Regions from separate parts of the Homo sapiens genome. Here region 1 is linked to region 2. Evidence: fine-mapped expression QTL. A gene starts in region 2. The other region holds a variant in brackets. All regions are shown on one strand. Distances are from middle to middle.

Region 1 (4,395 bases), 27 kb after region 2:
TGTAGAGACAGGATTTTGCCAAGTTGCCCAGGCTGGTCTTGAACTCCTAGGCTTAAGCAATCCACCCACCTTGGCCTCCTGAAGTGCCAGGATCACAGACGTGAGCCACTACACCCAGCCCAGCTGTTTACTTCTTTAACCATACTTTTGATTTTATTTTTTGACCAAAATGAACTAACCCAGGTAATCTTCCAGGGACCGCAATTCCAGAACCTCATAGTATTTCTTCCATTTCCAGCAGCTGATTAGAAGTCCAGGATCATGTGAAGTCAGGCAGGGTCACAGTTCCTGATGGCACATTATGGACAGAGAATTCCATTTTGTTTTCTAACCCATGATGAAAACCCACGTGAGTCAGTGTGTGAACAGGGATCATTAATTTTTTCCCCCTAGGTGGAAGGAAAAAGGCACTTACTTTGCAGGTTACAGAAATTACTGGGAGAGGATATCGTCATAAAAAGAGCCAGGCCAAATTGGAATATTTTTGTGATCTGCATCATGATGCTGAAAATAGCAATTATTTGGGAATTGGGTTTGAAAACTGAATTGTTGCCAGAGAATTAAACCAGGTGAAAGGTCCTTTTGAATTCAGATTGTCTTCTGAACATCCAGGCTGATCATCTGAGAGCAGTCAAATCTACTTCCCCAAAAAGAGACCAGGGTAGGTTTATTTGCTTTTATTTTTAATGTTTGCCTGTGTTTCCAAGTGTGAACAAAACAGTGTGTGATCTATTCTTGGATTCATTTTGATCAGTATTTATTCAAACCCAGTCTCTCTCCAGGACATAAAACTGAAATCAGATATGTTCTTTTTAAGCCCAAACCCTCTCCTTTCTAGATCCAACCCTTCACCCCTAATTTTATGATGGCTATAGCCATGGACTTCCCCAAGAAAAGATCACCCAGAAATAAGACCACCTGTGACAGTTACCAGCTTTTATTCATAACCTTAGCTTCCCAACTATTGAGCATTTTCTAAGGTCCCTGCTGTCTTTTGGTCTCTGGTTTGATTTGTGGCAAACAGATGAAGTAACAGACTGCTATGAAGGACCACAAAAACGGCAGCCTCTGGAAAAACCATTAGAAAGTCAGTGGCAGATCCAGTAAATAATATCGCCAGCCTCAGCATAATCTGCTGCTGACTCGATTCAGTGGACTCTAAAGTGCCCAGCCTCCTGACCTGAGCTCTCCTGCCATCTGTGAGACTACCAGAGGTCTTATCTGCTGTCCACATGGCAACTGGGCATGAGTACCTGGCCACCTTGCTTCCCTCTTTGCCTGGTCCAAGTGAGTGTCTGCTGCCTCTGTCCTGCCTTGTTTTCCTGGCTCTAAACCAACTCCACCCACTCTTAATGGAAACTCAGTCTGGCTTTGTGTGTTTCTGGGAAGCACATGACTTCTGGGAATGGGCAAGGAAGAGGAGTGAAACAAAAACTGTCAGCTATGTGTGCCTGGTCTGGGATCCTTCTCTGGGTGACAGTGGCATCATGAATCTTAGAATCAGCTCCCCTTTAACTAGGGACAATTGTAAGCACTTGGCCTCAAAGTTGAGGTTCTTGAATGTTTGCTAATTTTATGTGCATGATCCTTGCCCAAATATTTGTCATCCGTCCACATAGATTCACGTGTGCATACAACATGTACAAGTAATATTTGGGCTGCCCATAAGAACTGGAAGATTCATAGGGAATGCATATACCCTTCTCAGTATGGTTAGGATTCTGTTTTTGCTTCATTTAATTCCAGAGTTCCTCAGCCTCAGCAGGTTCTGCTTTTACCTGTCACAGAAATGTCCAGTGTTTAATGCATTTGGTTGCTGGGGCTTACATGCCAGCCTCCTCTGATATGTACTTGGTTTTTAAAAACCCATTTTGTTCTCTCTTGTTTCCTCTCTATTTCAGCCTAGTATCAGAAGGCCAGGCGAGACTGCAA[C/T]ACTGCTCATCACCCCGCGGCGTGATCCCTGCTCTTAGGTGCTGGGCAGAGGGGAAGGGTGGTCAGGGTGAGGATGGTGAGGGAGGGCTGGTGAGGGGCTCAGAGGAATACTTGGAACAACAGCAGTGTTATTGTAGTGTGGCAGTTTCTTTTATACATAGGTGAGAGTTTTTAAAGTGTAAGGGAAAAATTAATTTTTTAAAAAACACCATGCTTGGAGGGTGGGGGTAGAAATAGACACAATATTATTTCTAAGGAATCGGGTTTTCATTTACTCTGGACTGGTGAAAATATTTTTTAAAGCCAGTGCTCTAAGACCTCAGCTTTTATCTCAGAACCCCATGGGTTCCAGACCAAGAGTACAGGAAATCAAATTGTTGTCCTGTCTGTCTATAGCTTGGAACAGGGAGCTTTGATTACTGACTCCGGTTCCACACACTGTAAGATCAAAAAACCATCTCCACATTTGAAAGAGATGTAAGGTGTATTCATAGGGATGGTGGCTCAACAAATCAAGCAAACTGGAATCAAGGGGAGGGGGAAGGGAATGAAATGGAAAGGGAGGCTGATTCCCTTCCCCTGACTTACCACTAATTTACTAGGCTACCTACTTTCATGAGTAACCTCTCACAGCTACCCAGCACATGCCACAATCCTATGCTCTTGCCTTCTTTTATCTGCACTGTGTGAAGGGACTCTTTTAAATAAATGAGCAAGTGTCCTAAGCTATGTCATCCAAAGATTGTCCTTTCCATTCTCAAATCCTGTGACTGGGATCACTCAACAGCACTGTGATGTATTATTTTCAATGAGGTGCCTTTCTTAACTGACCAAATGCTGCCTTGTTTGGCCCCTAAATCAATAAAATATGTTAAAATTTGTATCCCCTGTTGTGGCATTTTTTTTAGATAATCTAAGCTAGAAAAATGACATTGAATTCTGGACCTGGCTGGAAGGAAAAGAAGCCCTTTCTTGTCGCTGGCAGCTGTGTGGTAGGGAGGTCCAAGTATGTGCATATGAGATAAGCCTGCAACCTCTTGACCTTCAGCTCCTATGCAGGCTTCTCTTGAGCCCAGAGACAAGGCAGCTTGGTCTAGTGGAGATAGCACTGTGCTTGGAGTTCAGGGGACCTAGGACAAATCCCAGCCAGTTAGTTATTCACTGTGCTCCTGTTTCCTCAGCTGAAAAAGGAAGTTGGTTATGCCACCTTCTTGGCCTTAATGGCATTAAATGAAATTTATAGGAAGAAGGTTTTTGCTCAGTACCTGGCATGCAACAGACATTGGATAAATGTTAGTTGGATCCAGATATACACAGAAAGATATCTGCTTCCTGCCAGGCTGGATAACTGTTGAATGGACACTTGTCCATAGTCTAGAAAGCCAGTGCTTCTAATCCTTAAGCCAGATCTTTGACTACCTTTTCAGTTGCTTCTTTAACACTCTTTGTTGCTTCTCTGTGTGTCCTAGTTTAAATTCATTTCCTCTCCAGCAAAAGTGAGCTTAAATAATTTCTCCAAACTAAAGCTCTCATGTTTTTGGAAGGGCTGCCTTTGCAAGTGAGGTTTCTGAGAAATGACTGTTGTTCCCAAAACAAGAGGGAGCTGGGCTGGAAGCACCACTATTCTTCTTTAGGCATCTTGTTACAGAGAGAGGCAGGGTCTTCACTGACATATTAAATCCTGTTCCCTGAACCAGCCCCTCCCTCTTCTGCTCCACTTCCTCACCTGTGCAGAGTCATTTTCAGGTGTTAGCCTTACTGATTTGCACTGATCTGTTTGTTCCCTGAGCTTTTTAAATACCCTGTGAAAATTTTCTTTCCTCCCTTGGTCATCATGCATCTAATTGTGGGGAAATGTTTGTCAAACCAACCTGCAAAGCAGCATGGTGTAGTTGAGAAGAATAAACAGAGAAGACTGGGTGAGCTATTGTTTGTTTGCTTCTTTGGGCCTGGGTTTCCTCATCTAATCTGCAAACCAAGAATGCAGACTAGTCCTACCACTCCCGGAAGACTGACGTTGTGCCAGGTATTATGCAAAGGCTTCATGTAACCCTCGACTTCACGTAACCCTCACACAGCACCCTGTGGAGTCAGAACTGTCCTTCACTTTTATAGGTGAGGAAACCAGACTCAGAGAGGTGAAGTGGCATTCCTGAGGTCATGCATAAGAGGCAGTCAGGACTGAAACACAGTCTCTAACACTTATCCGTCCCCTTGATCTTGTTGCTGAAGTGATTTAATTACTTGCGTAGCTCTGCACACAGGAAGGGCTGCTCTGAATAAGAGCTCTTTTCCATGGACACTCAGCGCTGCCGGAACTGATTTTGAAGAAGTCACTGCCGGCTCTGAGGGCCTAGGGTATGTGTCTTAGGATCTCCTGTGTGCACAAAGTGTCACTGACAGAACACAGCAGGATGGAGAGCAGCCTCCTCAGAAGCCTCACAAGTCTTTCCTCAGATGAAG
Region 2 (4,395 bases):
TGCGGCTCCTTCTCAAAAAAGAAAAAAAAAAGACTTAACTTGTGATTCATTACACTTCAAAGTGTATTGAATAAATCTTACACTTTGTGTCTTTATGGATAGTCTTCCTTACTTTCCCTCCTGGGAGCCCTAAGTCTTGTCACAATCACTATAGGGATTGATGGTAGAAAGGGAAGGCTGCTCCTACTCCCCTTGCCTGGTCCCTGTGCATAGAAAATTTCAATAAACTCTGGTCTTATTGGACTGAAGTGAATTTTGGCCACAGAGAGGCTTCCTGCAGCTTGTTTTCCCATCCCTCTGCCCATAAGCCCTGTAATCTCTAGGGCACCTGCTTGTCATCCTCAGTTGTTTTTGTTTTTGTTTTCAGAGTCTTGCTCTGTCACCCAGCCTGGAGTGTAGTGGTGCCATCTCAGCTCACTGCAACCTCCACCTCCCGGGTTCAAGCGATACTCCTGCCTCAGCCTCCCTAATAGCTGGGATTACAGGCATGCGCCACCACACTGGGCTAATTTTTTTGTAATTTTAGTAGAGACGGGGTTTCGCCATGTTGGCCAGGCTGGTCTCGAACTCCTGACCTCAGGTGATCTGCCCCCCCCTCAGGCTCTCAAAGTGCTGGGATTACAGGCGTGAGTCACTGGACCTGGCTCATCCTCAGTCTTAATTGTGAGTCTGCTACTGTGTGACTTTGGTCACTACGTATCTTCAGGCCTCAGCTTCCATTCTGAATAATAGACATAACAATCCTTTCTTCCTTCAATGTCATTGGGAGTATCCAACAAGATTAAGCAGGTACACTGTAAAAGTCCAGCGTGGCGATGAGAAATGAATGTTGACTTCTGTGTGGTAAGGAAGAGACCACAGCTGGGCTGGGCACAGTGGCTCACGCCTGTAATCCCAGCACTTTGGGAGGCCCAGGCGCGCGGATCACGAGGTCAGGAGATCAAGACCATCCTGACTAACACGGTGAAATCCCGTGTCTACTAAAAGTATAAAAAAAATTAGCCAGGCGTGGTGGTGGGCACCTATAGTCCCAGCTACGCAGGAGGCTGAGGCAGGAGAATGGCGTGAACCCAGGAGGTGGAGCTTGCAGTGAGCCGAGATCGCGCCACTGCACTCCAGCCTGGGCAACAGAGCGAGACCACGTCTCAAAAAAAAAAAAAAAAAGAAGAGACCACAGCTGAAGGGATAGCAAATTCATCATCAAGATGTAGAAAATGAGTTGTTAGGAGCCTGTGGGGAAACATAATCGTTTCATTACACACTCTTAACTAAAGGTCCAAAGAGGCCCTTGGAGCTGGATGAAACTTTCACACACCAAAAAGCTGTAGAAATTATTTCCCTATCCAAGAGGGTCATCTCTTTTGAGAAAAACTATCTTTTCCTGACTTTAAAAGGTTAACGTTTTTCTTAATATAAAGGTAAAACTTGTTTTAAACTTAAGTTTTTAAACTTATTAAGAATTTACCATAGAACTTTAAAAAATCTATTAAAATATACAAAGGAGAGGTGCTCCTCTAATCACACTACACAGCGGTCTACACTTGTAATAAACAAAATCGGGATTTTTTGGGGGGGGAGTGGGACGGAGTTTCACTCTTGTTGCCCAGGCTGGAGTGTAATGGCTCAATCTTGGCTCACTGTAACCTCCGCCTCCTGGGTTCAAGCAGTTCTCCTGCCTCAGCCTCCCAAGTAGCTGGGATTACAGGCATATGCCACCACTCCCAGCTAATTTTGTATTTTCAGTAGAGATGGGGTTTCATCATGTTGGTCAGGCTGGTCTCGAACTTCTGACCTCAGGTAATCCGCTCGCCATGGTCTCCCAAAGTGTGGGGATTACAGGCGTGAGCCACCGCGTCCGGCCAAAATTCGGATTTTGTTGTAACTGCAATTTTGTATCTCGCTTTGCTAACATTTTCCCGCATGATTAAATTATCTTATACAACAGGGGTATTCCAGGATACAAATTGGTTGCAATTTATTTAACCAATCTCTTATTGTTGGACATTTGGAGTATTGCCTTTATTTTATGGTTTTTCTCGGGCTTTTGGGCTAAGTGTTGCAATTAACAACTTTGTTACACGAATCTTTACTCATATCCTTGATTTTATCCATTGAATTCGTGGAAGTGGAATTGCTGGACCAAAGGGTATTTGAAACATATTACTAATTTGTCTTCTAAGAGTGATTTTACCCATTTAAACTCCCACGCGCAATTTAATAGGATTTCAATGTTGTTGCTGGTGTCGTCAACTGTCAAATGCCGAAGTATACCTTCCGGCCTGACCTCCTGTCCTCCTTCGCGTTTTCCCGCCCACTCCGCACACCCGCCACCCTTAGTACATGCTGGCCCGCCCCTTCCTTATCCCGCACCAATTCTGTCCAATCAAAAGCAAAGTTCCTCAGTATCGCCGTGCAGTTGGTAAGGTGAAGAGTCCGTCGTGCTCAGGGGCGGGCGGAACGGGCTGACGGACGCGGCTATGGGCCAGTGTGAGCGGCGAGTGGGACGTGCGTGGCGTGCGTGCGTTGACCTGGGAAGCACTGGACCTGTGAGGCGTGCGAACTGGTGGCAGTGAGAGACTTCGGCGGACATGGCTCCCAGCGTGCCAGCGGCAGAACCCGAGTATCCTAAAGGCATCCGGGCCGTGCTGCTGGGGCCTCCCGGGGCCGGTAAAGGGACCCAGGTGAGCGGCAGGACTGGGCTTGGCGGCGGAGCCTGCTGAACTCCAAGGTCAAGGCGGCCGGAGATCTAGAAGCCCTGGACCTGCCCGGAGCGGGCCGGGGACTAAGGCCTGCGGGGAACGCTGGCCGGGGTCTCGGTTCTGGTGGGGCATTTCGGAGAGGGTCCAAATTGGAGGTCGGGGCAGTCTGAGTTAGGATTGGAGTGCCCGAGGGATTCAGTGTTGAAGTGTTGGGTTAGGGAATGTGAGGGCTGATTAATTCCACTAAGGGTCTAGAGACTGGAAAGGTTTGAGGGGTAGAGTGAGCCCTGGGCCGAGGCATCTAGATTACAGGCTGAATGGAGGCAATTAGCTTTATGGCCCAGGTTACCTGCGAGTTGGAGGTGAATTGTCCAGAATCAGGGTTACATTCCAGGCACTGGAGGTCGGGAGATTTTGATAATGATTTATGACTTAGGGGGAGGGGAGGAGAAGCATCTCCAACACGTGGGGCAGAGTGAGAGGTGACATGTGCTGTGTGAGCCAGTTGAATTGAGATGGGAGGAAACCTAAGGCTCTCCCTGTTTGAAAGTTGGGGGTGAATGTGTAGAACTGGTTTATAGCCTGGAGACCCATGAGTCGCAACCTTTGAGTAGTGTCCACAATAAGGGTTGGGAGTGCTCATGGGACCTGGCTTGGAGTTAGGACCTGAGGCTACTGAAGGCTAAGCAGCTTGGGATGACGCAAATGATTTTAGATGAAAAGGAACTTGAATTTTTTTTTATTTTGTTTTTATTATTTTTGTTTGTTTGTATCTTCCTTCCCTTTGGTTTTTATTTATTTTTTCCTTTTTTTATTTTGTTGTTGTTTATAGGGAACTTGAAATTTTAACTTTATCAATCAACAGGTTAAAAAACAGGCCCAGAAAGGTCAGGTGGCTTTCCCAAATTAGTGAAATGAGTTTCATGAGCCTGAGACCTCAGGAACCATGGAGTTAGAGTCTGAAGTTACCATCTGCCCTAGCAGGCAACAGGGGCCTCACTTGGGATCTGGGCCCCTTCTAGATCTGGGACATAATGGGGCCATAGATTAGGGTTGGGATCGATGATCTCATTTCGGATTTGGAAGCCCGCAGGTTGGATTATTGATGTCCCCTTCTTGCTTGGGGTCTGGCATTGCACCTGGGGCCCTAAGCCTCTGGCTCTTGCCTGTTGTTAGGCTTCAAAGAGGGAAGTCTGAGCTCCCAAATGAAAGGGAATCTGAGGACTGCCCTGTGCCCGCTTTTCTCTTCCTAGCACTTGCCAAGTTTTAAAAATCTTGGCAAACAGACCATCTTACTCATTCTTGGTACCCCTTGTGGCACCTAGCACATTACTTGGCCCTTGATGGGGTTAGTGGAAGTGGATGAATGTCACAGATTAATGTGGGTGATAAAGAAAGAAGTTCTGGAACACTCCATTCATTCCTGTGACCTGGGCACTAAGTCAGAAAATACAGCTTTCTTTTCTCTCCACAGACTGAGATGATTCTTCTTTGGAGCTTACCTGTACCTGATCCCTTTATCCTTTATCCTCAGCGTTGTTGACATCTCTTTCCTGTTGCTGCCACACTCATTTATTGGGTAATCTGCAGCTTAGGGAAGTTTAATCTTAGACTCTGCAGACTTTTGCTGTGAGTGATCAAGTATAAACAGTAGCTCAAATGCTTCATTGTTTTTCTTTTTCTTTTTCTTTTTTTT

The links.
Region 1: its variant is fine-mapped to the expression of AK2 in whole blood (INTERVAL, PIP above 0.99).

The regions. Positions count from the first base shown.
Region 1 is chr1:33,008,340-33,012,734 of GRCh38, reverse strand. AK2 (adenylate kinase 2) reads left to right here. Exons shown (of 6, transcript NM_001625.4): 6 at 1-4,395. Among named protein-coding and RNA genes, the nearest start is that of AK2, 26 kb to the left of the region's middle. The variant C/T (reference allele first, on the strand shown) is at 1,933.
Region 2 is chr1:33,035,022-33,039,416 of GRCh38, reverse strand. AK2 (adenylate kinase 2) reads left to right here and starts at 2,534. Exons shown (of 6, transcript NM_001625.4): 1 at 2,534-2,681. The coding sequence starts at 2,589. RefSeq lists an enhancer at 2,556-2,715.